2 linked regions of the Homo sapiens genome follow. The protein of the gene in region 2 purifies or fractionates together with the protein of the main gene of each other region. This does not show direct contact. Each region holds a gene or a part of one and is shown on either strand. Other genes may lie near its edges.

The links.
Region 1: the proteins of ZKSCAN4 (region 2) and PARP4 purify together in Homo sapiens (affinity purification with mass spectrometry; one large-scale study listed by BioGRID and IntAct). This does not show direct contact.

The regions. Positions count from the first base shown.
Region 1 is NC_000013.11:24,453,707-24,457,520, forward strand, and holds part of PARP4 (protein mono-ADP-ribosyltransferase PARP4), read right to left. Parts: intron 2,773-3,814; coding exon 2,635-2,772; intron 1,507-2,634; coding exon 1,311-1,506; intron 1-1,310. UniProt on the Homo sapiens protein: Mono-ADP-ribosyltransferase that mediates mono-ADP-ribosylation of target proteins.
Region 2 is NC_000006.12:28,249,260-28,253,847, forward strand, and holds the start of ZKSCAN4 (zinc finger protein with KRAB and SCAN domains 4), read right to left. Parts: upstream 3,011-4,588; 5' UTR 2,722-3,010; coding exon 2,299-2,721; exon of another isoform or gene 2,286-2,298; intron 2,130-2,285; exon of another isoform or gene 1,606-2,129; intron 576-1,605; coding exon 428-575; intron 1-427. UniProt on the Homo sapiens protein: May be involved in the transcriptional activation of MDM2 and EP300 genes.

The sequences.
Region 1 (3,814 bases), on a different chromosome or scaffold from region 2:
GCACTAACAAACAATAATGTTATTTCATACCATCACGGCTGTTGTAAAGGATATTATATATTTATGTGTGTACCTTTCTTTTTAGAAAACTGTTTGATAATTTTAACATACAAAAGATTGTCCACAGGCCAGGCACGGTGGCTCATGCCTGTAATCCCAGCACTTTGGGAGGCCGAGGTGGGTGTATCACCTGAGGTCAGGAGTTCAAGACCAGCTCTGGTCAACAGGGTGAAACCCTGTCTCTGCTAAAAATACAAAAATTAGCTGGGTGTGGTGGTGAGCACTGTAATCTCAGCCACTGGGGAGGCTAAGGCCGGGAGGCAGAGGTTGCAGTGAGCTGAGATCGCACCACCGCACTCCAGCCTGGGCAACAAAGCGAGACTCTGTCTCAAAAAAAAAAAAAAAAAATTCACCACACTATTTTTCTAAATGATACATCATAGAGCATTCAAACCGTGGTGCTTTACTATGCAAAATGTTGAGTCAAATTCCATGTGCACATGCAGATCACTTGTGCAAATGTGCAGGGCATTGCAATGGCCTGAGCAGCTTGGCCCCTGGAAGGCCAGTCTCTGCTCACGCCCTTTGCACTCCCCATGCTTATCCGACCTCTGTCCCAGCAACAGCAGACTGTACCTCTGGGGAAAAGGGGCTGGGTCTTCTGCTGGATTGCACAGAGGATGAGAATCAATAGGATAAGACTGTCCCCTCACTCCACTCCACGCACCTCTCATCCCTGAGGTGCTGCCTTCTGGTGGCTGAGACGTCCCTGGGCCCCATCTGGAGGGTGGTACTACCTCCCTTCTAGCAGTGCTGGCCCGATACTTCCTGAGACCATTCCTTATAGATTTTCTATGACTGCGCTGAGGGCAAATGTTTTGTCCTTAGACTTGGGACCTCCTACTCAACAGACCAAGGGTTTTGTATTTGGTTCAGTTGCTAATGACAACAGTAGCATTTATATCTCACTTACTGTGAACAGGCACAGTTTAAAAATCCTTTACATACATTAGCTCAATCCTCCTCACAGCAACACTGTGAGTTAGGGACAATTATCCTCAGATCGCAGATGAGGAAACGGAGGCACCAGAAGTTCAAGTAGTGCGCCCAAGGTGACACACAGAACCTGTGAGTGGTACAGCTGGAACCGGGACCTAGGGGGTCCAGCTCCAGAGCTCTTGTTCTTCAATTTCATACTAGGCTGCCCCTCACCACACAGGCAGGGTCGGGTACCCACAGTTGTCAGCTCTACAGAATGTGATTCACATGTAGGGGAAGCACACGCAGGACCAGGGCCAAAGCGCACTCACCTGTGCCGAACTGGATAATATTTACTTTCTGCTTCTCACCCACCAAGGACAGCGCATGCAAGGCGATTTGCTTGGCTTGCAAGAATGTCACACCCTCCATGGAACTGGAGCAGTCAAGACAAATAATCACTTCGCTCTCACTGGCTAGGTCAGGGAGGTCGACATCGAGATCGGGTTGAAAGACAAGCATGCAAGCCTGAAAGGAGAAAGAAGGTGCTGGACTGGAGCTTCTTGTCACTTCAACTGCAAAAGGTCTACTTAGAAAACTCCAAAACTTTCTAGTGAGGTAAACTAATGCTATAAAAACAGAAAGAATAAGATGTAATTAACAACAAGATGGCCTACTAGGAGTTCCAGTCAAAAGTAGAATGTTAGAACTGGGAGTTTCCAACTTCTGACATAAACTTCTGAGAGGTCAAGAATTAGTATCTGAAAAATCATATAGCATCAACATTATGGAACAAATATATATATATATATATATATATATCACACTATTCTAAGAGGAATATACATGCCATTGTGATTACTAAAATACACACACATACCTTTTGTTCTATTAATTAACCAATATTTAACTACTATCATGTAAGTTTCCTTTTTTTTTTTTTTTTTTTTTGAGACAGGGTCTCCCTCTGTTGTCCAGGCTGGTATGCAGTGGCACGATCACAGCTCAGTTCAACCTCAACCTCCTGGACTCAAGTGATCGCCCTGTCTTAGCCTCCTGAGAAGCTGAAACCACAGGTGTGCATGACCACACCTGGCTAATTTTTTTTCTTAATTTTTTACAGAGACGAGGTCTCACTATGTTTCCCAGGCTGGTTTCAAACTCCTGAGCTCAAGCAATCCATCTGCCTTGGCCTCTCAAAGTGCTGGGATTACAGGTGTGAGCCACCACACCCAGCCTAAGTTTCTATTTTTATTTTAACTTAAGAAGAGACTCTTTGTCACAGCCACACAAAATGATCTTATTACCAACCACAAATAACTGCTTATTTGTTTTTCCAGTATCAGTATTTTAAAACTATAACAAGTTATAGAGAATACCCAATGTAATGTCTGATGGCACATGTTCTTTTGGTGGAGCTTAAGGTAAAAATGCGAATTTGTACAGGCAAATCATCCACATAAGGGTTTTGGATGAAACGTCAGAAGTTTGGCATGCTTGATATCATAAATATTTTTAGTTGCAGAATCTTGAGATGTGAGAGTTCATTTTGTAATGCTAGTTTTTCAGGACAATCAATAATTTGCAAGTTTAACCAGCTTATTCTGAAACATTTTTTCAATAGTGTCTCCTATGTCTAAGTAAAAAGGAGTATACCTCGCTTTCTTTTTCTGGATGTTTTTCAACCCACATTCTTGGGAGATAGGCAGCAGACAAACCGATGTGGAGAGAAAATCCACTGCTGTCTAAGGAGCTGCCTTCCATGGTGCTAATGACAGCTTTGCAGTCTGTGCGCTGCAAAACAAACACCGCGACAACAAGGTGAGTAATGGAGTAACACCATATTAGCAGTCTGCACTTACCTGTCATGGAGCAAACCCTTGCATAGCTTACATAACTCTATTAAGAATCAACAAAGTAGTGGTAAATTCCAAAATAATGAAATGTAGGCCGGGTGCAGTGGCTCACACCTGTAATCTCAGCACTTTGAGACGCCGAGGTGGGTGGAGTTTGAGGCCAGCCTGGCCAACATGGTGAAACCCTGTCTCTACTAAAAATACAAAAAATTAGCTGGGCGTAATGGTGGGCACCTGTACTCCCAGCTAGTCAGGAGGCTGAGGCAGGAGAATCGCTTGAACCCAGGAGGTAAAGGTTGCAGTGAGCCAAGATCGCGCCACTGCACTCCAGCCTGGGTAACAACAGGGAAACTCTGTCTCAAAACAAAAACAAAACAAAACAAAACAAAAAAAACAAAATAACAAAATGTAGGTTTTAGAAGACCATGAGCATATCAGTCACCCTTCTGCAATCCTAAGGTTGATTCACACGGTCAAATAAGTGTGAGACAGTCTCAAACCCTGGATCCAAAGATTATAGATCTACCCATTCAGTTAGACTTATCTGGGTATAGCAGACGGCACATCAGATAATTAAAACCGAGAAGACTAAAATAGAAAATTCAACAGAAATCTTAGAATCATAACTTATTTGTATATTATATTTTCATGAATATAAAAAAGCTGTTGAAAATGTAAATAAGCTTTACAACAACAAAGGCAAAGGCATGTGCTAGAGTGTCACATGACCACAAAGTCTCTCCACTCCTGTCTGCGTGCCCCTTTGCAATGTGACTTTTGAAGTTCCTCCTGCCACGAGGCAGCAGCTATATTTCCACCCTTGAAACTGGAGTTGGCCAAAGGACTTGCTGTGGCCAATGATATGTTGGCAGATGAGATACAAGCAGGGGCGTGAAAAGTGTCCATGCAACGGGCCTGGCACTCTCTTGTTGCTACTGAGGACTCCTCCACCACTATGTAGTGGCTCACGCCTGTAATCC
Region 2 (4,588 bases):
TTATTTTCTTCATAGCACTTAACAATATCTAAAATTATATTATTAATTTATTTTCTATCCTCCCTGCTAGAATGTAAGCTCCATCAAAGCAAGAATTCTGTCTTATTGGTGGCTCTCTCCCCAGTGCCTACAACACTGGCTACCATAGATGAAGGCTCCCTAAATATATCTAATGAATGGAGATCACCATGTTGTTTAAAAAACCGATTCTTTCTAGACATCAATTTTAATAAAATCAGATTTACTATGTCCTAGTTTGGTTAGGAAAGTTTTTCACCATTGTTTGAAATTTCTCTTAGTCTCAGTCTTAAAATACAGCTCTCTGTGATGAGTATATAAAGTAACTGTAAATGGATCTTTTAGGTGATCCTTAAATGAAATTGGATGAAGTCTATAGAATTCATACAACCCAGAAGAGAATACTCACCTCTATCGTGTAAGGGCTGGGATCCCAGAGATTCATGCTTGAACAGAGCCTTCATTGGCTGGCACTGGCTACTTTGAGACCCTTGAGTTTGTGTCAATAGTGCCATCTTGCAACAGAGCAGTTCTTGCCCCTGGTCACCAACGGGAACCTAGAAGTCACGATTTTTAGTTATCTACCCAACATTTCTATGTTTTCCATGTGCAAGTGATTTCTATTTTCTAGGCACTGTTTCTACAAGCCTTATGATATTAACACAATTAATATAGATAACAACCCTGTGAGCTATTATTTTGGATTTTTATGATAAGTTGCTGAAAACGGAGATGTGGCCCGGATCCTCTCTCCTGAGTGGACAGCATTTTTTTTGTTGTTGTTGGTTTTTTTGTTTTTTTTTTTTTGAGACGGAATTTCACTCTTGTTGCTCAGGCTGGAATGCAATGGCATGATCTCACCTCACCGCAACTTCCGCCTCCGGGGTTCAAGCAATTCTCCTGCCTCAGCCTCCCTAGTAGCTGGGATTACAGCCATGTGCCACCACGCCCGGCTAATGTTTTGTACTTTTAGTAGAGACCGGGTTTCTCCATGTTGGTCAGGCTGGTCTCGAACTCCCGACCTCAGGTGATCCGCCCACCTCAGCCTCCCAAAGTGCTGGGATTACAGGCGTGAGCCACTGCACCCAGCCAAGGGTGGACAGTGTTTAAGCAGCTTGCCCATGTCACCCAGCTAATAAGTGGAAATGCTAGGATGGGAGCTCAGACAGAATGACTCCAGATCCCGTGTTCTTACCATTACTCTAGGCTCCCTCATTATATACATCTGTGTGTTTACGAAAACCCTTTGGACACTGGTGCTAAATTCTCAATACTAATATATTTTCTAATCTGAAAAATGAGGATAATAATTTCTACTTTATGAGGTTTTGGAGACCAGTAAATAAGATCACAGTATGTGACATCACCTAACACAGGGCCTGGCACATAGTTATGTCCTCATTAAAAGCAGGTTTCCTTCCAGACATTGATAGTTAAATTACAGTTTTCAAGTTACTGTCTCACGTGCAGCTCAGAATTTCCCACATATTTTATGAAGAATGAAGCTAAGAGATTTGCAATGACTTCCCACTGCTACAGGGCTTGCGTGCAATAGACCTAAGTCAAGAACCTTGGTATCCAGCTCACCAGTTAGAAGATTTGGCCACACAGGTCCTCTGAAGTTGTGTGCACAGGGACACAGGACGATGCAAAGAGGAAACAGTCCCTCATAAAACAGGGAAGAACATGGAGGTAAAAATAGGCCCACTTTCTACCAGAGGTTCATAACCAGTGGTCCATGGACTTTCTCCCAAGTGGTCCATGAACTTAGAAAGGACAAAAACTAATCTTATTTTTACTGGTCTTTAAGAGAGAGTTAACATTTCCTTCAATTATGAATGGAAGCAACAAATCAAGGTAGCATAAGCAGTACCCAGGACTTTGTCACCAACAAAACCTGCACGTTTTCACACCACATTACAACCAGGCAAATAGATGCTTATCGCCATTTTGAAATTGCCAATTATAAGCCCTGTCCCTAGGTCTTATTATTTAGTGCAGTAATAAAAATCCACATATATGACTTTAATACAAATTTAATTCTTTGCTAACTGTATGTCAATATAGTTGTGTTCTTTTGTAATCCTTTATAGTTTCTTTATATATTTAAAAATATAATTCTGAGAAGGAGTCCAGGGACTTCACCTTACTGCCAAGGAGGTTCACAGTACAAAAAGAGATGAAGAACTCCTGGACCTTAAAGGAATGCCCCTCGCTCCGATCTGGGATTTCAGGAGGAAACAGACCACAGCGCTCAGATACTAAACCTGTTCTTTCTACCTGCGGCGCCGGCTCATCCAGCTGCCTCTCCAAATACTCCAATAGCACCACCACCTCCTCCCCGCTCTCTGGATGCTGCTCCCGCACCCAGCTCTGCAGATTCCCCGGCAGGATGGTCAGGAACTGCTCCAGCACCAGCAGCTCCAGGATCTGCTCCTTGCTGTGCATCTCAGGCTGCAGCCATTGTCCGCAGAGTTCTCGGAGCCGGCTCAACGCCTCGCGGGGGCCCGCAGCCTCCGGGTAGCGGAAGCCTCGGAAGCGCTGGCGGGAGCGTTCGGGGCCCCGAGCAGGGCTGCAGGGTGCTCTCACCTCCGCCGTCAAGGCGGAGGCTTCCTCCTTCTCCACCTTCACGGTCAGGAGCCCCGTCTGGTCTTCTGCAGACTGGGCGTCCAGGGCTGCGTTTTTTCTCGGTTCTCTAGCCATTCTGACCCAAGGCAGTACTCGGGTCTCACTCTAGTTGCGACCTGTATATCTTCAGAGGATTCTGGAAGGGTGGTAAATTTTCCAGTAGAACTGCAAGTGGTCCCCCTCCTGTCATGCCCAGGGGCCCAGGACACCCCCTGAGGCGCAGCTGCACAGATCTCTCTTATAGTCCGTGCCTTTGCAGGGTCGTCCTCTGCACCCCACTCTGAATCCCACAGTAAGTATCACCAAAGGATGTCTTTGGGAGTGAAAGTGATCACTCTCCAGACATAGGAGGGAAGTTGAGGCTGGGGCACAGGAAGTCTCGATGGGAACTAAGGCCACTTCCTGGGCGCTCTAGGAAGCTTCTCTCGGTGGTTGTCTCCGAATTAACCCATTAGCTACCCTGTCCTTACCTCCACGCAAGGGAAGGCAGTTAAGGGATAGAGAAGGAAAGGATGACAGACCTTGGATCATAAGAAATAGGACTGAGCCTTTAAATCCTGGAAGGATGCCGCTGCGGCTCATATTTCTTTCCTATGTAAAGCTTGCTTAAGCAGCTGGCATAAAATTGACACTAAAATTGAGCTGGAAAGCAGGGGTTCCCCAGAGCCCCAAGAACCCTGGCAGGGGGACCTTTAGTCTCTCTCAGAAACATCAAAGCAGCAGAACACATCACCAGGCACTTGCCTGGAGCGAGCAGTGGCTGCCCTTGGTCCTTCCCCACTCACCCCCTTAATCTGTCACTTTTTTTCCTCCTCCTTAAGGCCAGACTACTCCTCCCGACCCTGACTGTAGCCCTCACCTCCCACTAATCCTCAACACACTGTCCCACTCCCCCACTCACCACTTTGCACATTCCATGGCTGCTTCTCTGGCAATCAGGCTTATGCTGCTCTCCACCTCCAGAAACTCTCTAGTCTCTGGCTTCAGGGACCCCATTCTCTTCTGCTTTCTTCCTTCCTGTTTCTTCCCAGCCCCCAATCACAGTCAAGCACAGTGGCTAGATACGCAGGTAGCCAGGTTACCTGTGTAATCCTGGCTTACCCTCCCTGTGCCCGACTTTTCCAATCTGTAAATAGGGAAAGTAATAGTAGATAGGGATGTTGTAGGCATTACTAGGGATTAGATAATGTTGTGAGCACTCTTGTGTAAAGTGCTTAGAACAGTGCCTGGCATGTGATAAACTAGGCCTATCCTATAATAGAAGAAAGCCCTGAGAATTCTTTGAACTAGATGGGACTCGATTTTAAGCCATAATTGACTGTAAGTTATTTGACTGGACACTTCAGTAAGCCCCTTTCTGCCCAGTGGAATGGAGAAGCTACAAAATGCAAGTTCAGTAGTTTATGAGGGGAAAAAATATCATGTCAGTACTTTCTTGAGTTTTTCTTTCTTTGCCTATGCCTCTACATTCCAAGGATTAAGAAATAACATAACTTAAGAAAATGAGAAGTCCCAAAGACTGTTGCAAATGAAAAATACTACAAAATATCTTTCTCTTGATGAGCTACCACAGAAGGTAGGGGGCACTGCCCATGAAGTATCCTTATAAGTGAACTTGAATCTAAGTACTTTTCTAGATCCAAATATTTACAGAAATAAGTTAAGTTAGCAGTTTTCACACTCTGTGTCACACAGAATCACTGGGGAGCTTTTAAAACATCCTGATACCTAGGCTGCAACCAAGATCAATTAAATCAGAATGTCACAGGATGGGACTCAGGCATTAATAACATTTTTTGGTTGTTTTTGTTTGTTTTGCGACAGAGTCTTGCTGTGTCACCCAGGGCTGGAGTGCAGTGGCGCAATCTTGGCTCACTGAAACCTCCACTTCCTGGGTTCAAGTGATTCTAGTGCCTCAGCCACCCGAGTAGCTGGGATTACA